Linked DNA regions of Homo sapiens. The protein of the gene in region 1 purifies or fractionates together with the protein of each later gene. This does not show direct contact. Each region holds a gene or a part of one and is shown in the gene's direction. Other genes may lie near its edges. The genes, in order: TBC1D22A, ACSL4, EFNB3 and FDXR.

What was found.
Region 2: the proteins of TBC1D22A (region 1) and ACSL4 purify together in Homo sapiens (affinity purification with mass spectrometry; 3 studies listed by BioGRID and IntAct, with this or other methods). This does not show direct contact.
Region 3: the proteins of TBC1D22A (region 1) and EFNB3 purify together in Homo sapiens (affinity purification with mass spectrometry; 3 studies listed by BioGRID and IntAct, with this or other methods). This does not show direct contact.
Region 4: the proteins of TBC1D22A (region 1) and FDXR purify together in Homo sapiens (affinity purification with mass spectrometry; 3 studies listed by BioGRID and IntAct, with this or other methods). This does not show direct contact.

Annotation. Positions count from the first base shown.
Region 1 is NC_000022.11:47,171,616-47,176,199, forward strand, and holds the end of TBC1D22A (TBC1 domain family member 22A), read left to right. Parts: intron 1-1,882; coding exon 1,883-2,011; 3' UTR 2,012-4,078; downstream 4,079-4,584. UniProt on the Homo sapiens protein: May act as a GTPase-activating protein for Rab family protein(s).
Region 2 is NC_000023.11:109,723,257-109,730,296, reverse strand, and holds part of ACSL4 (long-chain-fatty-acid--CoA ligase 4), read left to right. Parts: intron 1-7,040. UniProt on the Homo sapiens protein: Catalyzes the conversion of long-chain fatty acids to their active form acyl-CoA for both synthesis of cellular lipids, and degradation via beta-oxidation. Preferentially activates arachidonate and eicosapentaenoate as substrates.
Region 3 is NC_000017.11:7,708,202-7,711,912, forward strand, and holds the end of EFNB3 (ephrin-B3 precursor), read left to right. Parts: coding exon 1-49; intron 50-233; coding exon 234-326; intron 327-433; coding exon 434-538; intron 539-965; coding exon 966-1,375; 3' UTR 1,376-3,171; downstream 3,172-3,711. UniProt on the Homo sapiens protein: Cell surface transmembrane ligand for Eph receptors, a family of receptor tyrosine kinases which are crucial for migration, repulsion and adhesion during neuronal, vascular and epithelial development.
Region 4 is NC_000017.11:74,869,955-74,877,474, reverse strand, and holds the start of FDXR (NADPH:adrenodoxin oxidoreductase, mitochondrial isoform 1 precursor), read left to right. Parts: upstream 1-4,480; 5' UTR 4,481-4,530; coding exon 4,531-4,609; exon of another isoform or gene 4,610-4,706; intron 4,707-5,158; coding exon of another isoform or gene 5,159-5,277; intron 5,278-5,341; coding exon 5,342-5,439; intron 5,440-7,520. UniProt on the Homo sapiens protein: Serves as the first electron transfer protein in all the mitochondrial P450 systems including cholesterol side chain cleavage in all steroidogenic tissues, steroid 11-beta hydroxylation in the adrenal cortex, 25-OH-vitamin D3-24 hydroxylation in the kidney, and sterol C-27 hydroxylation in the liver.

The DNA of each region.
Region 1 (4,584 bases):
TCTCTGATCCCTACTTCTGCCAAGCCCTCTGTGTGTTGGGGTCCCCGGAGACCTGCCCTGCCCTTGGTGGGCTGCCAGCAGCTGTGGATGTGGGCGTGGTCATGTGGGAGGGCGGGGCTGTCAGGCGGTGGTCGTGGGGGGTCCCCCGAGGACCTGTGCTTTTCCTTCCCCGTTGTGGCCTCAGTGGACGTAGGTCAGTCTCCATCTCCTCAGTGTCCGCATCCCGGCCTCCAGACCATGAGCTCTGGAGACAGTCGCCCATGTGTCTTTTGGGGGTGGGACTCAGTGCCCCCATAGCCCATCTGAGACACGGCCCAGCTGCAGGCCAGAGGAGCCCACCCAGCACTCCCAGTAAGCCCAACGCACCTGCCCAGTGCGCCCGGTGAGCCCAGTGTGCCTACCCAGCACTCCCAGTGAGCCTACCCAGCACTCCCAGTGAGCCTACCCAGCACTCCCAGTGAGCCTACCCAGCACTCCCAGTGAGCTGTGTGCTCACCCAGAGTGCCCAGTGAGCCCAGTGAGTCCGGTGTGCCCGCCCGGTGTTCCCACCCAGCATGCCCAGTGAGCCTTGTGTGTCCACCCAGTGTGCCCGCTCAGTGAGCCTGGTGTGTCTACCTAGCATGCCCATGGAGCCCACTGTGTGCCCACCCAGTGCTGGCTGTACTGCTGGCCGTATGTGTGTTTTCCCAGTCTGTCCAGCAGCCCTGACAGTAATTTACTACAGTAAATAAAAATTTGTACTATGTGAATTCAATGCAATAAATGCTGTGACTGGGAAGTAGAATGGGAGAATGAAGGGTACAGGAGGCGAGATTTTAAAAATACACATGTAAGATGATTTTATCCACACTGAACGACTTATAATTGTTGCTTATTCCCTATAGTTCCCTATTTTCCTACTTACATGCATGTCATTCACCTTTATGTAAAACCTTTTACCTCCTATCTTTACCTATGAGAATCCTACCTGAATTTTAAGAGTCTGATCAAATGTCACTTCCACAGAAAGGCCTTCTTTGGTTGTAACTGGAATTAATTTTTAAATCTCAGTCTAAGGCAAATAAGCACATTAGAAAGCAATAAATAAATAAATGGTGGCCCCATTTTGCAGAGGAGGAAGCTGGGCCTCGGGGTGGAGTCATTGTTCCAGGGCACCAGGTTGGACCTAGACCTGAAGCTGGGTTTGGTGGAGCCCTGCACCCCAACCCACTGGTGTGAGGTGGTCATGCAGGAGGGGCCAGTTGGCGCTTTGCTGTGCTCCTGGGCTCCCGGGGTGGGCCTGAGCCGGCTCCGTTCTGTGATCCCCTCGTGTGGGCTTCATCTGCTGATGGTGCTGGTGCCCGGAGGGGTCTCCTGGTGCACAGAAATCTGTGCTTAGTGGCAGTTCCAGGGGTGCTGCGGTACTTCCTGGGCTGATACAGGCTTTGTGGGAGTGGGAAGCTCCTGGGCGGAGGCTGCAAAGCTGCAGCAGGGCCCCGAGAGCTGGGTCTCCCCCTGAGGGGCAGGGGATTCAGTTAAATGAAGCTCTGGGCGGCCCCTGCCACGACATCTCAGATGCCGGACTTGGAGCTGCGCAGTGGGCCTCCTGCCTGGCTGCTGGGATGGGGCGGTGGCCGTGGGGCGAGGCCTGGGGCCCTTCTGGGGTTGAGCAGGGAGCAGCTGCCGGCTGGGCAAGTTTTCCTGGGTCACCCACCCTCCACTGTGGGTCACCTCCTCTGACCTGGGCTTGTGTCTTTCTCTCCAGTTTTCCTGGATCACCCGCCCTGCACCGTGGGTCACCTCCTCTGACCTGGGCTTGTATCTTTCCCTCCAGTTTTCTGGGGTCACCCGCCCTCCACCGTGGGTCACCTCCTCTGACCTGGGCTTGTCTCTTTCTCCCCAGGAGCTGCTGCTCTTCCTCCAGAACCTGCCCACAGCCCACTGGGATGATGAGGACATCAGCCTGTTGCTGGCCGAGGCCTACCGCCTCAAGTTTGCTTTTGCCGACGCCCCCAATCACTACAAGAAATGAGCCCAGGCCCACCCGCAGCTGGCCTCACTGTCCCGGGTGGCGCGCCCCACCTGCCTGGCTGGTGGTAGGCCCCTGTGAGCTGGTCCCGGGCTGCTAAAAGGCCTTGTGAGGTGGCCCCACCCTCCAGGGGAGCTGGTGAAGATGGGCCACAGACCTGGTCTAGGGCTGACAAAGACAGGGACAGCCTTTGTTTTCTGAGATACCAAAGAGAGCCAGGGGAGGGCCCCGGGTTCGGCGGCCAGAGGCAGGTCAGGGGTCCCCTCTCCCTCTCCCTGCAATGTCCTTGCCAAATGACTGCCTCGTGCTGCCCCTAGTCCGGGGCAGCCTAGGAGGCCGACCCTCTTTGGAGTCCTGCTGTCTGGGTGCCAGGGCCGGAACGAGGTAGTGGCCATCTCATACCTACTCTGAAATGCAAAACTTCTATTCTGTTGAGTGAAAGAATAAAATGTAGACAAAATCTAGACCGAGACGTTGCGCTGACCCGGGGTCTCTGTGCCGCGAGGTCCCCTCACAGCTGTATTTCACTGCTGCTGGCCCTTTCCCTCCGTGTGTTTTCCTGCTTGCTTGGTTTAAACGTGGCTGGGAAGCTGAAGGCTGGAGTCCAAGCCGTGAGCCCGCCGAGTGCCTGGGAGGCCGTGGGACCAAAGGCTGGGAGCAGAGGGAGGCCTCGCCATCGCCTTACTTTCCACCTTGAACCTCTTTTACAAGAGAGAAACCCCCACCTCCCTGAGGTCCAGGGCCAAGTGGCCCCGCCACGCAGGTAGGCGCCGGCCTCAGCCAGAGCCCCTGGAGGCCCACCCAGGCTGTCGGGCCATGTTGGGCTGGCAGACGGGCAGGGGGTCGCGTCCCTGTCATCAAAGCCCTGAACCACAGTGCTCTTCTCACCGCAGCCTGGAAGCGGAATGAGCTTTTGGAGACTTCCTGGGACTTGCTGTCCTTGTCCAGGTCTGCCAGGTGTAGGGGAGGTGTGACTGGTTCCATCATGGACCGGTTCCTCCATGGACCGGTTCCTCCGTGGACCGGTTCCGCCATGGACCGGTTCCGCCATGGACCACTCCTGCCCTGGACCACTCCTGCCCTGGACCGGTTCTGCCGTGGACTGGTTCCCGCCGTGGACCAGTTCCCGCTGTATACTGGTTCTGCCCTGGACTGGTTCCCGCTGTGGACTGGTTCCTTGGGGCTCTAAGTGCGGAAGGGCCCAGAGCTGGTCCCTGCCCAGCGCCCTGCTAGGGCTGTGTCCTTGGCTCCAGGGGCCTTGGGACTGGCTTCCCAGCGTTCCCTCGGTGTGTCACAGGCTGCATGACCCCTGGAATGCGGGCAGGGCCACAGCCACAGTCTGTCTGATCCCTGAGCCCAGGACAGGCTCACGTCCTCAGCGACCCACTGGTGACTGACTTCCCAGACTCTCCTCTGTCCCTCAGGAGCAGCCGTGTCCTCTCCCAGGCCCTAGGACACTGCCAGAGACTGTGGGACATACAGGCATAAGTGATGTGTGTGTTTCTGCTTCTGTTTTAAAAATCCAGGGTCATTACACACAGCATGGAAATTAGCACAAAATGCTGTGCAAACGTCAGATGCTCCCAAACCAGCAAAGGGATGGGCTTGCTTCACATCAGATGCGGGCACGCCTTACCCCTGCCTTCCGTGTCCCCACCCCAGGGTCAAGGGTTCCTCAGACCAGCCATGCCTCCTCCTCCTGCCGCCTCCTTTTCTAGATGGGGAGGGGATTCCGTCACAAGAAGAGCCGCCCCTCGGCCGTGTGCAGGAAGCCCCATGTCGCTTTGCCGAGATCAGCCCTGGGAGGATCCCCTTCTCCAGCTCAGATCATGCCGTGTGGCCAGAAGGCTGCGGACACAACTGACCTGCTTCTCGAGGTGGTTGATGTTTTAAACAGGAAGCTCCACGGAGTTCAGCCCTGTGTGCATTTCCTCATGTATGTAAACGCCAAGACTGAATGTGAGAGGTGTTGGCCGCGGGCCTTAAGTCTGAGCAGATCCATCTGGAATGTTCGGGGTGTGCTGTCTGGATGTGGTGCGCTAAAAACACGGAATAAAGATCAGTGACAAAGCCGCGGCCTTGGCCTGTGATTCGAGGACTTGCCCATCGAGGACAGGGGCACCCTGGCCCAGCCCTGCCGAGGGTCTGAGCTCAGGGCCATTGCGGCGCACCAGCGTGGGCCCGGCAGCACCCGTGATCTCGCTGCCCCCCGCAGGACCTCTCAGGGAGATGGGGCTGCAGCTGCTCAGGTGGTGCAGGGATGCCACTTGCCCGGGCGGGGCAAGACTCAGAAACCAGTCTGACCCCCGAAGCCCGGCTCTGCACTAGCTGGAACACGGGAGTGTGGGGTCCAGGCTGGCCCCTGTCAGGCTCCTGAACAAGGGACCTCCCCTTGGGCCACATCTGTCAAGCACCTGCTTTGAAAAGGGCTGTTCCGGGGTAGGCACCAGGGTCTGGGGTCCCCCCCGCCTCTCCTGGGATACACTTGCCTCACCCTCACCCACACACTGAAACACCCTCCTTGCCCTGTGTTACTGAAGCAAGGCCCTTCAAAGGGCCTCAGTTTCTCAGGGCAG
Region 2 (7,040 bases), on another chromosome or scaffold:
TTATATACTCTTTCTTTCCCTTTTAACTTTTTATTTTGAGATAGTTGTAGATTCACATATAGTTGTAAGAAATAATACGCTTTATCTAATTTCCCCCAATAATAGCCTCATGCATAAGTATAGTGTAACATCACAACTACAAAATTGAAATCGATGCAATCCATCAACCTTACTCAGATTTCGTCACCTTTAATGCAGTCATTTGCATGTATGTATTTAGTTCTACATAATGTTATCACGTGTAGATTTATATAAGCACTACCACAGTCAAGATACAGAACAATTGCATCACCACAAGGATCCTTTTTGTTGTCTTTTTATAGATGTAGCCATCTCCCTTCATCCCTGACTCCTGGCAACCACTGATCTGTTTTTCATGTCTATAATTTTGTCATTTCAAAAATGCTTATATAAATGAATCACACAGTATATAACCTTTGGAGACTGACTTTACTTCACTCAGCATAATTCCTTGGAGATTAGTGCAAGGAATATACCTTTTATCAATGGCTTGTTCCTTTCCATTGCTGAGTAGTATTCCATAATATGGATTTACTGCAGTTTGTTTAACCAGTCACCTCTTGAAGGGCATCTGATGTTTCCAGGGTTTTTGTTTGTTTTACTTATTTATTTATTTATTTATTGCCTATTTTGAATAAAGCTCATATGAACAGTTGTCCACAGGATTTTGTGTGAACATAAATTTCTGAAATGCCTGAGAGTGTACTTCTTGGGTGGTATAGCACTTGCATGTTTAGTTTTCTAAGGAACTGCCAAACCATTTTCCAGAGTGGCTGTACCATTTTACATTCCCACCAGGAATGTGTGAATGCTCCTCATCCTTGACAGCATTTGGTGCTGTTACTATTTTTTATTTTAGCCATTCTCATAGGTGTGTAGTAATATATCCTCCTAGTTTTAATTTGCATTTTTCTGATCGCCAATGATGTTGATCATTTTTCCATGTGTTTATTTGCCATTCTCTGTATCTTCAGTGAAATATCAGTTCATGTCTTTTGTCCATTTTCTATTTGGATTTTTTTTTTAACCTGGTGAGTTTTAAGAGTTTTTTATTATTTTTTTGAGACGGAGTCTCGCTCTGTTGCCCAGGCTGGAGTGCAGTGGTGCAATCTCACTGCAAGCTCTGCCTCCCAGATTCACGCCATTCTCCTGCCTCAGCCTCCCAAGTATCTGGGACTACAGGCACCCGCCACCACACCTGGCTAATTTTTTTTTTTTTTTGTATTTTTAGTAGAGACAGGGTTTCACCGTGTTAGCCAGGGTGGTCTCGATCTCCTGACCTCATGATCCACCCGCCTCGGCCTCCCAAAGTGCTGGGATTACAGGCGTGAGCCACCGCCCCTGGCCTTTTTATTCTTAATACTAATCATTTGTCAGGTAGTGGTATGAAAATATGTTCTCCCAGTCTGTAGCTTGTCTTTCCAACCTCTTCACAGGGAATTTCACAGAGCAAAAGGCTTTAATTTGGATGAGGTCCAGTTTATTAATTTTTCCTCTATGGACTGTGCTTTTGGTGTCAAGAAATCTTACAAACTTTTGTTATTTAATTTGATTCCTTTCTGTTCTGTATAACATCCATTATTTCTGTAAGCTATTTGAGCATTTTCTCTTTCAACAATTTTAGAGCTCAAATATATTCTGTGAACAAGTGGCCTTAATGGCTTAGAATGTTAATACATATTCACACATGCTCTCACTATATTAAAATGGCTGCCTTAAAAATATAATGTCTACCTCACCAGGCTGTCAAATGCAACATTAAAATTTGTATTTTAAAATTAAATAGACGCATGATATGCTAAAGAGGTTTTTGGTTTCACTTTCTAAATTAAAAATATTTTGGCAAAACTGTATCATTTTCCATCAAGGATTTTGGTAAGTAATCCAAAAAACAAATTTGTGTTCTTATTTAAATGTACTTTGAAAGTCTACTTCTGCATTTTGAGTAGTGAAGTTATGATTCATGACCATGTATTTAGCAGACTTTTCTACTCACTGTTGATTATGAGAATAATGAATAAAAGATCATTGTATTTGACTGTCTAGACTGCATTTTTCCTTTTATAGCAGCTACATGACACTCATTGTAACTGTCTTTTGAAATAAATATTAGGTTCAAGGTGATGTTTACAGTTTTATATTTTGAAAAATGTATGTGCTCATATGAGAAGGAATTATAGGAAAAGGTTAGTGATTAATTTTGAGAATATTCATTTCTGTAAGGCAGTACTGAAATTATTTGTCCCTTCAGTGTTACTATATTTACTCAAATATGTGTGCAGTGAGGGAAGTAGATTGTTATTTGAAAAAGATAAAACATTGGTATAAGGCAGGGGCTGGCAAAATACTGCCTGTGGCCAAATCCTGCCCACCACCGGTTTTTGTAAATAAACTTCTCTTGGAATATAGCCACATCCATTAATTTATGTGTTTTCTGGCCGCATTCACAATACAACATCAGAGCTGAAACAGAGCCCTTATGTCCCGTGAAGCCAATTTTCTCTCTGGACCTTTACAGAAAAAGTGCTGACCCCAGAGATAAGGTAACCTTATAAATTGTTGATTACACACACACACACACACACACACACACACACACACACACACACACACACACAATTTAACAAACTACCCTGACTTTTTATACCTTCTGGTTACATTTCCAGGTGATATTGTGATTCAGGAGAGTGCATTCATTTTCTTTACTAAGTCTCCAAAGCACTGTGGTCTAGGAGCAGCAATAAGGAATGCATAGAGAGTTGAGACGGTTGATTTTGTTGTTAAGTGTGGGTTATTTAAATGTGAATGTGAATTTACATGTGTGGCAATCAGTAAGCTGCAGATAGACTTCTATGCAGTCTATGATGTCTTTTGGAGACCCTGTTGTGAGCTGTAGCGGTAATAAGAGAGCCAGGCATGGTAGTGTTTTTGCTCCTGAAACTGCTATGTGATCTTTAAGTACATAGTAGTAAGAGCCTATCAAACTGAGCTTAGACTGTTGGTTTATTATTTTGTTTGTACAACTTCCTTTTTTATAACGAAGCAGTTGACACTTTAGTTCTTTTAAGTGTTCTAAGTGTAATGTTGAAAATGGAAATTGAGTAAAGACAGGTGGCTGTGTATTTAGAAAGTAATAAGTCTCCATCTCTCATCATACACAAAAATAACTTAAGAATATATTTTAAAAATCTAAGTATATATTTTAAAAAATCTTCTGGAAAGTGTAAGACATCATAACCCAGTTAAAAAGACAAGTGATGGCCGGGCACTGCAGCTCACGCCTATAATCCCAGCACTTTGGGAGGCCAAGGTGGGAAGATTGCTTGAGCCCAGGAGTTTGAGACCAGCCTGGACAACATAGTGAGACCCTGTCTCTAAAAAAAAAACAAAAAAAACAAAACAACAACAACAACAACAAAAAACAACAAAAAAAGCCAGGCATGGTGGCATGTGCCTGTAGTCTTTGCTACTCCAGAGGCTGAAGTGGGAGGATCCCTTGAGCCTGGGAGGTCGAGGCTGCAGAGAGCTATGATTGCACCACTGCACTCTGGCCTGGGTGATAGAGCGAGACCCTGTCTCAAAAAATAAATAAATAAAATAAATAAAAATGAAAAAGCTTCTACATATGCATTAGAAGCTTTAATTGACCTCCACTTAATTGACTCACCACATTGAATAATTTTTATTTCCTTTGTAAAATACAGTGTACACTGAATACTTGGTATTAGTTGGTTGATCTCCAGTACTCCAGCGTGCTTGTTTACCTACCAGTACAGTAAATTTTTTTACTACTAAACCTGTATATGTTGGTTGTATTTGTTTTTTTGTTTGTTGGTTGGTTTGTTTGTTTTTGAGATGGAGTTTTGCTCTTGTTGCCCAGGCTGGAGTGCAATGGTGCAATCTCGGCTCACTGCAACCTCTGCCTCCTGGGTTCAAGCAATTCTCCTGCCTTAGCCTCCCGAGTAGCTGGGATTATAGGTGCCCACCACCATGCCTGGCTAATTTTTTTTGTATTTTTAGTAGAGACGGGGTTTTGCCATGTTGGCCAGGCTGGTCTTGAACTCCTGACCTCAGGTGATCCACTTGCCTCAGCCTCCCAGAATGCTGGGATTACAGGCGTGAGCCACCGTGCTAAGCCTGCTTGTATTTGTTTTTAAAAGGTAATTTGTTTAATATGTTGTAACCTGACAATATATGAGTGGGGGAGATTGGAGTTCTTTTTACTGAAAATTTACAAATGAAATAATATGATGTCTGGGATTTGCTTAACATTATACAAGGGGTGAGGGATGGAGGTGGGTTGTGGGTAGTATGGAAGAAACACAATTCAGCACATATGAATAACTGTTGAAGCTGGGTGATGGTTACATTAGATTCATTATGATGAAACAAATTGTTTTGAGAAGAGTTAATGAAAACAAGTTGCAAAAAAAAATACTGTCCGCTTAAATGTGGGTAAGATGACTATACAAGATACGTGGAAAAAATATAAAAATCTAAAAGAGTTTTATTTTATTTTATTTTATTTTATTTTTTGAGATGGAGTCTCGCTCTTTTGCCCAGGCTGGAGTGCAGTGGCGTGATCTCGGCTCACTGTAAGCTCCACCTCCCGGGTTCACGCCATTCTCCTGACTACAGGCGCCCTCCACCACACCTGGCTAATTTTTTTGTATTTTTAGTAGAGACAGGGTTTCACCGTGTTAGCCAGGATGGTCTCGATCTCCTGACCTCGTGATCCGCCCGCCTTGGCCTCCCAGAGTGCTGGGGTTATAGGTGTGAGCCACCGCACCAGCCATCTAAAAGGGTTTTATACTCACATTACTTGTCAAATGTAAAATCAATGGGCCTGGAGTTAGAGAAAAAGGTCTTGGCCTCTTGGCCCCATATAGAAAGTTTGAGGCTGGCATGGTGGCTCATGCTTGTAATCCCAACATTTTAGGGGGCCAAAGCAGGAGGATTGCTTGAAGCCAGTTCAAGACCAGCCTGAGCAACATAGCAAGACCCTGTCTCAAAAAAAAAAAAAAAAAATAGCTGGGTGTGGTGGCACACACCTGTAGTCCCCAGTCACTCAGGAGGCTGAGACAGGAGGATTGCTTGAGGCCAGGAGTTCAAGGTTGCAGTGAGTCATGATCACACCACTGCATTCCAACCTGGGAGACAGAGTGAGATCCTGTCTTTAAATAAAAAAACAAAACAAAACAAAAACAAAAAAAACCCCAGGTCAGGTACAGTGCGTCATGCCTGTAATCCCAGCACTTTGGAAGGCCAAGGCAGGCAGATCTCTTGAGGCCAGGAGTTTGAGACCAGCCTGGGCAACATGGTGAAACCCCATCTCTACAGAAAATTTTTATTATTATTATTATTGAGACGGAATCTCGCTCTGTCGCCCAGGCTGGAGTGCAGTGGCATGATCTCGGCTCACTACAACCTCCGTCTCACAGATTCAAGCGATTCTTCTGCCTCAGCCACCCGAGTAGCTGGGATTACAGGTGCCCACCACCACACCCGGCTAATTTTTGTATTTTTAGTAGAGATGAGGTTTCGCCATGTTGGCCAGGCTGGTCTCAAACTCCTGACCTCAAGTGATCTGCCTGCCTCAGCTTCCCAAAGTGCTGAGACTACAGGCGTGAGCCACCACGCCTAGCCCAAAAAATACAAAAATTTAGTTGGGCATGGTGCCATGTGCCTATGGTTCCAACTACTGGGGAAGCTGAGGTGGGAGGATTGCTTGAGCCCAGTAGGTGGAGGTTGTAGTGAACTATGATCACTCACGTCATTGCATTCCACCCTGGGTGACAGAGTGAGACCTTGTCTCAAAAAAACAAAAACAAAAATTAGCCAGGCATGGTGATGCACAACTGTAGTCCCAGATACTTGGGAGGCTGTGGCAGGAGGATAGCTTGTGCCCGGGAGGCAGAGGTTGCAGCGATCCAAGGTCACTCCACTGCATTCCAGCCTGGGCATCAGAGCAAAACCCTGTCTCAGAAACAAACAAAAAAACAAAAAAGCCCCCCAAAAATAAATAAACCAAAACCACACACACACAAAGTTTGTTGAATGAGTATATATATACCACTGATGAAAGGAAGGTGAAATGTTTGCCATACATATTTTTATGATCGTTTACCTGAAATTAACCTTTTAAATTACATAACCAATTGTTCTAAATCACATTAGATAAAAGGGTTTCTACTGCATAATATCCATAATATATAAAGAGCTCCTAAAGATCAATAAGAGAAAGGTACCCACTACAAAAAGCAAAAAGTGGCAGAAGATTATACATGGGCATTTCCCAGGAAAAGAAGTACTGGTGAATAAAAAAGAAAAGATGTTCAAATTGACTCTGGTTATTAGGGAAATGTAAACCGTTTTTCACCAGACAGATTGGCAAGAACTTAATATCCACTTTTAACAAATAGGCATTTGCATACACTGTTAATGAGAGTTCACATGTATAACTCTTTGCTGAAGAATACCAAAATCATCTCATTTTTAAATGTGCATACATTTTGACCCAATAGTTTTATTAGAAAACAATTCTAGGGAAATATTACATGTGTATAAAACTATGTATAAGGTTTCGCTGCAGTGAAACTGTTTGTAACTGTGAAAATTTGGCAGTATCCTAAATATCCATCAGTAGGGAATGATTTAAATAATGGTAAGTTATACTGTGGAATACCATTGAGTTATTAAATAAAAAAAGAAGAAAAGCCTCTTGGTTAGACATATATATACACTGACATAGGAGTTCCAAAGTATGCTGTTAAGCAGGGGAAGAGAGGGGGAGGGAGTCAAAGAACAGTTGTATACCATAATTCCACTTATCTAAAAATAAACCCTTATCATGTGTATGGGTAATACAAAACAATCTGATTGATACACATCAAGAGTAATTATCCCTAGAGGAAAAGAGAGTGGTGTTAGAGGAGGGCAGTATAGTTTTACTTTTTCTCTGTACAATTCTATATTATATATTATAATTTACAATTACAATTTTGATAGTAGGTATGCAG
Region 3 (3,711 bases), on another chromosome or scaffold:
AATCTCTGGGGCCACGAGTTCCGCTCGCACCACGATTACTACATCATTGGTACTGCTGGGCAGAGGGCACGATTGAGTGGGGGGCTCCTGATACTGAGCAGAGAGGGAGGGGGACCCCTGCAGCCAAGAGGGAGATCCCAGTGCCCTCAGGCAGTGTTCACACCAGGGTGTGGGGCCAGAATCAGGGCTAGATTCTGGAGTGCCAACCTCTTCCTCTGGCTTTTCTCTCCCAGCCACATCGGATGGGACCCGGGAGGGCCTGGAGAGCCTGCAGGGAGGTGTGTGCCTAACCAGAGGCATGAAGGTGCTTCTCCGAGTGGGACAAAGTGAGTGGGGCTGGGGGACACCTCCTGGGCACGAAGGGACGTTGGGGCAGTACGATCATGGTTGGGGCAGTTGTCTCAGCCCCTCTCTGGGTCTTCCTCATCTCCAGGTCCCCGAGGAGGGGCTGTCCCCCGAAAACCTGTGTCTGAAATGCCCATGGAAAGAGACCGAGGGGCAGCCCACAGCCTGGAGCCTGGGAAGGAGAACCTGCCAGGTAGGAACCAGGGGCTAGGCCCCTGCCTTCCCCAGCTTCCTCTGCTCTCAGACCCCAGCTGCCCTGCCGTCACCCTCCCTCCCTCTTCAGTTTTGGGGGCGGTGATACAGGAAAGAGGAGAAGAGAGGATGGGAGGGTGGGAGGGGAATGGAAACCAAATGAGGAAAAGACTCAATTAGAACTAATTAGCCAAGTCAGTGCTTCAATCAGTGCTGTCAGAGAAGTGGGGAGGACTCCGTGGCAGGAAGCTGAAGGGCTGGACACCTGGATTCTGAGCAGAGTTCGGAGGGGGAGGAGAGATGGGGTCCCCAAGGGGCCTGGGCGCTACAAGGGAAGCCCATGGGGACCCCCAGGGTTGGGTGTCCAGGTGCCCAGGTGGCTCCTTCAGTCCCTCCCCCTCTTTCCTCCTTCACCCCTTCCCTGCCAGGTGACCCCACCAGCAATGCAACCTCCCGGGGTGCTGAAGGCCCCCTGCCCCCTCCCAGCATGCCTGCAGTGGCTGGGGCAGCAGGGGGGCTGGCGCTGCTCTTGCTGGGCGTGGCAGGGGCTGGGGGTGCCATGTGTTGGCGGAGACGGCGGGCCAAGCCTTCGGAGAGTCGCCACCCTGGTCCTGGCTCCTTCGGGAGGGGAGGGTCTCTGGGCCTGGGGGGTGGAGGTGGGATGGGACCTCGGGAGGCTGAGCCTGGGGAGCTAGGGATAGCTCTGCGGGGTGGCGGGGCTGCAGATCCCCCCTTCTGCCCCCACTATGAGAAGGTGAGTGGTGACTATGGGCATCCTGTGTATATCGTGCAGGATGGGCCCCCCCAGAGCCCTCCAAACATCTACTACAAGGTATGAGGGCTCCTCTCACGTGGCTATCCTGAATCCAGCCCTTCTTGGGGTGCTCCTCCAGTTTAATTCCTGGTTTGAGGGACACCTCTAACATCTCGGCCCCCTGTGCCCCCCCAGCCCCTTCACTCCTCCCGGCTGCTGTCCTCGTCTCCACTTTTAGGATTCCTTAGGATTCCCACTGCCCCACTTCCTGCCCTCCCGTTTGGCCATGGGTGCCCCCCTCTGTCTCAGTGTCCCTGGATCCTTTTTCCTTGGGGAGGGGCACAGGCTCAGCCTCCTCTCTGACCATGACCCAGGCATCCTTGTCCCCCTCACCCACCCAGAGCTAGGGGCGGGAACAGCCCACCTTTTGGTTGGCACCGCCTTCTTTCTGCCTCTCACTGGTTTTCTCTTCTCTATCTCTTATTCTTTCCCTCTCTTCCGTCTCTAGGTCTGTTCTTCTTCCCTAGCATCCTCCTCCCCACATCTCCTTTCACCCTCTTGGCTTCTTATCCTGTGCCTCTCCCATCTCCTGGGTGGGGGCATCAAAGCATTTCTCCCCTTAGCTTTCAGCCCCCCTTCTGACCTCTCATACCAACCACTCCCCTCAGTCTGCCAAAAATGGGGGCCTTATGGGGAAGGCTCTGACACTCCACCCCAGCTCAGGCCATGGGCAGCAGGGCTCCATTCTCTGGCCTGGCCCAGGCCTCTACATACTTACTCCAGCCATTTGGGGTGGTTGGGTCATGACAGCTACCATGAGAAGAAGTGTCCCGTTTTGTCCAGTGGCCAATAGCAAGATATGAACCGGTCGGGACATGTATGGACTTGGTCTGATGCTGAATGGGCCACTTGGGACCGGAAGTGACTTGCTCCAGACAAGAGGTGACCAGGCCCGGACAGAAATGGCCTGGGAAGTAGCAGAAGCAGTGCAGCAGGAACTGGAAGTGCCTTCATCCAGGACAGGAAGTAGCACTTCTGAAACAGGAAGTGGTCTGGCTGGAACTCCAAGTGGCTTAGTCTGGGGGATCAGGAGGTGGGAGGTGGATGGTTCTTATTCTGTGGAGAAGAAGGGCGGGAAGAACTTCCTTTCAGGAGGAAGCTGGAACTTACTGACTGTAAGAGGTTAGAGGTGGACCGAGAAGGACTTTTCCCAGTCTTCAGTGGCACTTCCCAAGATCTCCCTTCCCTTGTGCTCTGTGCTGATTTTAGGACAGCTAAGATGACTGCCATGTGCTGTGGCAGGCCTAATTTGTCTTGTTCTTTCCTTTCCATATCCCAGTATAATCTCTGTTAATCAACAGGACTACCCCAAGAACCCATGTGCTCTCCCGAGTAACCCAGATGGCTGTCTTGTTCATTCCATCCTACATTTCTGACTCCTTTCAGACTCAACACAGTTCCCTTCTTAGTGACCAAAATGGTGGCCTACTGGCTGGTCTAGCTGACAGTGGTACTTAGCAAAGGCCACTGTTTCCATAGTGACCAGCTGATACCTCTTCCTGCCCTCTAGTGTGCAATTGGGTGTTGCCTCAGTTTCCTCCCAGCTCAGTTTTATTAGATCAAAGCTGTTGTTGGGCACCAGGTTGGCCACCTCAATCACCAGCCAAGATGGTTGCTTTGTCCACCAGAGGTCAAGTTCACCTCTCTGGTGCTGTAGTTCCCAGCTCCTTCCTGATTTTTCTAATCGCTCCTTCTGGGGAACAGGAAGTTGATATTGCCATGGTGGCGGGGTATGCCGTCACCTCAGTAGTTTTACTGTAAAAGGGAAATTTGAACAACAAAAACCAAAAAAAATAAAAATAAAAAACTTCAAAAGTTGACAAGAAGGCTGGAGAATGACTGGACTTGAATTGGGACAAAGGCTTGGTTAGAATGGCTTTCAGCTGAGGGTTGGATTGCATGAAACCAACCAAGGGGGGTGGGTAGGGATAGGGCTAGTTTGGAGTGGTGAGGTTGGCAGTGCTTGGGGAGGCGAAAATGGGCTGGGCGAGAAGGCAGAGGAAGGTGTCACCTCTAGGGGAGGGAGAGAGTAATGCAGGCAGGAGTGGGGTCGCCAATTCATCCATGGGGACAGTCTGAGTGTCTTGCTAAGCCAAAGCACCAGAGACAGGGTAAGACGCAATTAGGATCAAAGTGGTAAAAACATGTTCACATGTTAAAGTCTATTCCCTACCATCCCTACCCAAGGCACTTGAGAAGTTTTGCTGTTGGGGACTCATGGGGAGAAGGGATGTGGCTGATCAGAAGGAAGTAGGAAGGACTCAGGGAGGGACCCAGGCATCAAGCTGCGTGTGCCCTGGCTCCCTGTATACCCATAACCGAGGCTCTTCTCCCCCAAAAAGCCCAGGTGCCCAGTCCCC
Region 4 (7,520 bases), on another chromosome or scaffold:
GTAGTCCCAGCTACTTGGCAGGCTGAGGCAGAAGAATCACCTGAACCCGGGAGGTGGAGGTTGCAGTGAGCCAAGATTGCACCATTGCATTCCAGCCTGGGTGACAGAGCGAGACTCCATCTCAAAAAAATAAAAAAATAAAAAATAAGACTCCCGTTCAAAAAAAAAAAAAAGAATAAATAACTTTGAATGTGACCTTGGCTAGTTCAAACAGTTTGTTCTGTGATGTTTAGAAGTGAACCTGGGGATCATCTACTGGGAGAGAGAAGAATTTGTAGGAGGGGGCTGGGGCTGGAGGGGGTACTGGGAACAGGGTCCGGAGGACGGATGACCTCAGAGAGGAATGGGAGGAGGGTGGGGTGCAGATAGAAGAGCCTGAAGTCAGGGCTGGGCAGGGCTGTGGAAGGATGGTCTGCAGCCTGGGAGTGAGGTGGGAATATAAGGGAACTACCAATGCCAGGCAGAGGAAGAGACCAAGGTGCTGGGGGACACCACTGAGATTCAGCCCACAGTGGGTAGTATTGAGAGAGGGCTGGGAGCTGCCCCAGCTGGGGGCTGGACTGGGAGGGTGCTAGGAAGTGCCCAGGTGGAGGCTGAGGGAGAGACAGAGAAGGAGGCCAGACCCATTAGTTGAAAACAGGGTCTCTCACCTTGGCACTATTGACTTTTTTTTTTATGGAGATGGAGTCTCGCTCTGTCGCCCAGGCTGGAGTGCAGTGGCATGATCTCAGCTCACTGCAACTTCTGCCTCCCAGGTTCAAGCGATTCTCCTGCTTCAGCCTCCCGAGTAGCTGGGACTACAGGAGCCTGCCACCATGCCTGGCTAATTTTTTGTATTTTAGTAGAGACGGAGTTTCACCATGTTGCCCAAGCTGGTCTCGAACTCCTGAGCCCAGGCAATCCACCCACCTTGGCCTCCCAAAGTGCTAGGATTACAGGTGTGAGCCACCATGCCCAGTCACTACTGACATTTTATCTGGCCAATTCTGTGTTGTTGGGGGCTGTCCTGTGCATTGTTGGATGTTTAGCAGCGTCACTGGCTTCTACCTACTAGATGCTGGGAGCTCAAGTTGTGACAATCAAAAATGTCTCCAGACATTGCTGAGTTGACCCAGTTGAGAACATGCAAGTCATTCTCTGAGCGTGTAATTGCCTTGTTTTTCAGTGAAGGCCTTGGATAGAGTGAAAGGCCTCCTGACCCTGCTGATAGGGAGACAAACTGCCGGCAAATGGGAGCCTGGGGGATGGGCAGAGGGGTCTGGCTACAGGCACAGGCATTCCCTGAGCCTTGTTCCGTTGGAGAGCCCCTCTGTGGTGTGGCCTTAGGCAGCTGCACAGAGGCCACTGGTTCTTTTATGTGCACTCTCCATTCATCTCCACCACACCTTCCTTTACCAAAGACCGCAGTTCCTTTAGACACCCTTTTCCATAGCTACAGACTCTCACTAGTTCTGAAACAGCTCCCTCCAGGCTTGCGGTGGTAGTGGTTTCCAGCTGTTGCTAGCCTGGGGTGCTTCTCCATTCCCTTCACCCTGCTCACACCTCTGTATACAAACTCCTTCATTAAACTGTCCTCAATCACGCCTTTTGAGTGTGCCATCTGTTTCTTGCTAGAAGGTTGACTGATAGAGTGGAGTTTTGGATCCAGGCAGCCCTCTTGGCACGAGGCAGGCTTGGCGGCTCCCCAGCCCACTGCTTTGCTATATGTTATTGCTGCTCCTTGGAAATGCATTAGCAGCTTAGAAATGGCCTTGAGATCTAGGGGTGTAATTAATCAAACTGCTAATTCTCCATTTGAGAAACGCAGTGGCAGAAAAGGCCCCAGTTGCACAGTCCTGGCTCATGATTAAAACCATCCAAATACATAACCAATGACTCATTGTTATTGATCTGGACCTGACTGGGGTATGGGCAGCAGCTGAAGGCACTGGTGCCAGATCTGGCTGTACCATGGGTATCATGGGAACAAGTCACTCGATTGCTTTGAGGCTCCATTTTCTGTTTCACTTAGGATGTGGGCTGGGAATTTCTGAGGCCTGAGAGGTGAGGGAGGTGACAGGAGTGAATGAAGTATATCCAGATCTCTGCAGAGACTTAAGGTCTAATCTACAGAGACATATGGGAGGTCATAATACATATGGATGATGATAATAATAGCTAATGTTTATCTAGCATTTATGGAAGTTGTCTTGACCTCATCATCTGATTTTAATGTCTACAACAAATTGCCACTATTCATATTTCCCCCAAATGTTACAGACAGTGAAAAAAAGTCCTGGAGAGATTAAATTTCTCAATGTCATATAGCTAGTAAGTGGAGGAAGAGGGATTCAGACCCAATGTTGTCTGACTCTAGAATCCATCCTCCACCACCAGATATACTGCCTCTAGATGGGGAGCCCTACAGAACTTTTTCGATTGTACGAACTTCCATTATGTGCTAGCCAGTGTGTGAAGCCCTGGGGGTATAAGAGCTGAGACTGGGTCCCCATCCTCATGGAGCTTATAATGTAGTGCAGGGGTGGTCAAACTCTGTAAAGGACCAGATAGTAAATATCTGGGGCTTTGCGAACCATATGATCTCTGTTACAACTACTCAATTGTGCCATCAAAGCACAAATATAGCCATAGACAATATGTAAAGAAGTAAGCATGGATGTCTTCCAATAAAGTTTTATTCAAACTGAAGTCTGAATTTCATGTAATTTTTACGTGTCACAAAATGTTGTTTTTTACCATTAAAAATATAAAAACAAGCTGGGTGTGGTGGCTCACTCCTGTAATCCTGGCACTTTGGAAGGCCGAGGTGGGAGGATCGCTTTGAGTTCAGGAGTTCGAGACCAGCCTGGGTGACATGGCAAAACCCCATCTCCACAAAAAATGCAAAAATGAACCAGGCGTGGTGGCAGGCACCTGTGGTCCCAGCTACTCCGGAGGCTGAGGCCTGAGGCTCGCTTGAGCCAAGCCAGGAAGCAGAGGTTGCAGTGAGCACCACTGCACTCCAGCCTGGGTGACAGAGCAGGACCCTGTCTCAAAAAACAAAATCAAAACCAAAAACAAAAACCCCAAAACCTCCAAAAAAACAAAAACAGTAAAAGCCATTCTTGTTGGTCATCCAAAACATGCTGGTGGACAGTATTTGGCCTGCAAGCTATAGTTTGCCTACTCCTGGTCTAGTGGGACAGGCATAAAACACAGTGACCTATTAGAAAGCAGACAGCATTTACTTACCAGTGGGAGGGAGGGGAAGTGACCAGTAAGGGCACAGAGGACTCCTGGGATACTGGCCATGTTTTATTTCTTGATCTGGGTGGTGGTTATATGGTTACACCTTGTGATATATTGTCAAGTTGTACACTCATGATTTGTGCACTTTTCTGTATGTTATTATTGAATTTAAAATCTCATTAAAAACGACAACCAGTGTAGTAAGTCATGATGGGATAAGGTCAGATGCTGTGGAATGAGAGGCCTTTAACTCCTTGGAACTTGGGAGGGGACGGGTCAGAGAAAAGGCTTCTCCAAGGAAGTAATATTTGACAAGAGGGCCCATGGGGAAAAGGAAGAGGGGTTAGGCTTATTGGGTCAGCTGTGACTACGGATCCTGTCCTTATTTTTAAAAACATTTTGATCATAGACTTTTTGCATTACTTTTGACCTTTTAAAACGTTGCAGTATTATATTTATCTTGATTACTGAGTGTTTTGGAGCCCCCTTAAATTCTGAACCCGAGGGGAGTACCTCAACTCTGGTCCCGGCTCGGCTGCACGGGGGTCGGACGCTCTGTCCTTAGTACCATACGTAAGCCACTGCCCCGCCCCGCTTTTCTTCACCTATGTAATGGGAAAGGAGGTGAGGTGGGACGAGCTTTCCAGGGTTTAATATTCTCCCTGGCCCGGCAAAGACGGGGATTTGAGGGGTTACATCGGCACAACACCCGGGGTCGAAGAAGGAGGCTGCTGGGCTCCGGGAAGGAGCTCCCTCGCCCCAGACTTCCGCACTCTGGTTATTTCCCAACGGCGGGAAGGCTCGCTTGGAGCCGGACTCGTGATTGGCTAGGACGAAGTCACGTGGGAGGATTCGCAATCAAATGGCAAGGGCGTCTGCGTCATCAGTGAGCGACGAGAGCCTCCCGAGAGGGGCGCGGCTAAGTAAAATAAGCTCCTTTCTTAGTGGCTGTTTCCTTGGGGAGGGACTGAAACAGCGATGGGGATTCGCTCTCTTCCAACCCTAGGCTTCCGGGATTTGGAGGGAAGGTGAGGCCTGGGGAGAAATGTATTAAATCGCGTATACCCCGGATGCTCCGAGGGGCGGGGCTTCGACGGTGGGGCGTAGTTAAGGGCGGGTCTCTCTTTTGGGGGCGGGATTCTCTCGGGAGTCGGGGTGGAGCCGCAAGGCTCCGCTTTCCCGGAGCGCAGGGGGCGGGGTTTGGGGCGGGGCCTCGCTTGTGGGCGGGCCCGGGCAGGAGCGGGCTTGCCCTGCGGAGCAGTAGCTAGGAACAGATCCACTTGCAGGTTGCTGCTCCCAGCCATGGCTTCGCGCTGCTGGCGCTGGTGGGGCTGGTCGGCGTGGCCTCGGACCCGGCTGCCTCCCGCCGGGAGCACCCCGAGTAGGAGCAGGGCGCCTTTGGGGCTGGATGGGAGCGCGGGGAGGCCTGCGAGCGCTGAGTAGGGGTCGGAGCAGAGCTGGGGCAGGGCTGGAGAAGGGTGAGACTGAAGGGGTGTCTTCCTGCTGGCGAGATCCCGGTGGTGTACGGGGGTGGGCGGAGATCTGTGCGTGAGATGTGAGGCTTCTAGGGTTAGAGACGGAGGTCAACAAAGGTGAAAAGGAGAGACTTTGAGATCTACAGGTGTGAGACGGGGTGAATGGAGGATGATACGGAGGTCTGTGGGGCGAGAGGAAAGTCTGAGTCGAAACAGGGATCTGTAGGAATAAGACGGGTCTATATGGGCAATATAGCGTTTTGTGGAGAGAGAGAGGGGTTAGAGGAGGGACACCGTGGGGAGACCCACGGGGGCGAGATTGGGATGATATGGAGGCCGTTGGAAGGATGTGGGATTCTAGCCGATTGGATAGGGAATGAAGTGTTGTTGGGCAGGCCATTGGCAGTGGTGTAGTAGGTTCATGGGTGAGATGTGGGCTCTGGATGAACCCACAGCCTTTGGGGGTTCAGATGAAGTAAGAGACCCTGCAAATGCCAAAGCCTTGAGGAACAAGAGAAGGAGGATGCAGGTGAGGGTGAAGCTTGGGAAGTTCCAGCTTCTGTTGGATATTCAGGTTGGTTTGGGACTGGGGAGAGAAGTTAATTTTGACCTTTTCCCTCTCCTCTGCCTGGCCCCAGGCTTCTGCCACCATTTCTCCACACAGGAGAAGACCCCCCAGATCTGTGTGGTGGGCAGTGGCCCAGCTGGCTTCTACACGGCCCAACACCTGCTAAAGGTAAGCCACTTACTCATAGTCCATCATTCACCTGCTGCTCCAGTCCTAAGGGCAAGCCTCACCCGCTTTGGGTTTTAAGAGCACTCCTGGTTGCCTTATGGGGAAGGGGCTCCCAGCCATCTGGCCTGGACACTTCCCACTTGCTTCCTCACCTACACCTGAGGCTCCCCTCCCCTCCCGTCCTCAGTGTGACAGGGGTGTAAAACGCACATTGGTGGTGAGTGGTCAGTGGCAGGTGGTCAGCTTTGCCTCCCTGGCCAAGCACTCCAGGGGGCTTATGTAGACCTGCAAAATGACTTTGTCCTCCTTCATCTTCCCTCCTCTCTCGTCTATCTTCACTCTATCCCAAACATCCTACATCTCGAGGCTACCCACCTCCTCCGCTTTCTGTAACTTTACCTGCCTTGCCATGCCCTCCTCACCCATAGCTCCAGTCCTCCGTGCCATTCTGTTCTTTCAGCCTGCCCTCTGCCCCTCCCCCTTCCCCTGTGAAGGCCAGGATCTCAAGGCTTTCAGTGTCTGCCTCGGCAGGAAGGGCCCCAAGCCAAGGCTACAGGTTCTACTTGAGACTCCACATCAGACTTTGGGACAGAGTAGAGAGGGGATACCCAGGTTAACTGAGACGTGAGACAGTTGCCTAGCTTTGGAGAGGCTTGGAGTGTCCGTGGAGAGACAAGAGAAAGGATGAATATCTTAATTATACACACACACACAGATGCTTGAAATGTAGGGTGACCAACTGGCCTGGACTGCCCAGGACAAGGGGCTTCAGCGCTAAGCTGGAAGTTCTTGGGAAACTGGGATGAGTTGATCACTCTGCTGAAAAGTGACCCGTGCATGCTTCCCAGGCAACACGGGTGAAAGAGCTAATTACAATAATGTGGGCAGCGTGAGCCGAGGCAGGTGGGGTCAATCAGAAACTGTTTCCTGGGCCGGAAGCCCAGGTGGCTCATGTCTGTAATCCCAGCACTTTGGGAGGCCAAGGCAGGTGGATCACTTGAAGTCAGGAGTTTGAGACCAGCCTGGCCAACGTGGTGAAACCCCATCTCTACTAAAAATAGAAAAATCAGCCACGTGTGGTGGCACAGGTCTGTAGTCCCAGGTACTTGGGAGGCTGAGTCGGGAGGATCGCTTGAACCCAGGAGGTGGAGGTAGCACTGAGCCAAGATCAAATCACTGTACTCCAGCCTGGGCGACAGAGTGAGACCCTGTCTCAAAAAAAAAAAAAAAAAAAAAAAGAGAGACAGTGCATTTGAGCTGCCTTGAAGCAGACCAAGGGCTTTGGTGAGGGCCTCCCACATGTGGGGAGTCATCCTGGAATGCAAGGCCTTGGGCACGCTGCCATGTGGGAGGGAGGACAGCCTGGGCTCTGGGATGGAGATCAGGGAGCACATGGGGGCTGGAGAGGCCCTGAAGGGCTTTGTATAAGGGACAGTTTTTTTTTAGCTGATCCTGACATTTTGGAAGGGAGGAGAGTAAGCTTTCCAGGCAGTGTTCTTTTTTTTTTTTTTTTTTTTTTGAGATGGAGTCTGGCTCTGTCGCCCAGGCTGGAGTGCAGTGGCACAGTCTCAGCTCACTTCAACCTCCATCTCCCAAGTTCAAGCGATTCTCCTGCCTCAGCCTCCTGAGTAACTGGGATTACAGGCGCACTCCACCACATGCAGCTAATTTTTGTATTTTTGGTTGAGACAGGGTTTCACCATGTTGATCAGGCTGGTTTTGAACTCCTGACCTCAAGTGATCTGCCCACCTCGGCCTCCCAAAGTCCTGGGATTACAGGCGTGAGCCCCCGCGCCCGGCCAGGCAGTGTTCTTAGCACGACTGTATTCAGCTGGCAGACACGTGCACATGCTTTCCTTGTGGAATGGGATGGGGAGGGGCTCAGGCCAGGTACAATCCTTGTTCTGATCCTTGGGCTGATCTTTGCCCACAGGGAGCTCCAAGCTACTGGCTGTGCTCCTAAGACAGGACCACATGCAGCACGTTTGGGACAGTGGCCCTTAGCTTGAGTCAGGCACTGAGCACAGCATCTCGTAGCATCCTCATGACAACCTGCAAAGCAGGTGTCGTGCCTCTTGCTT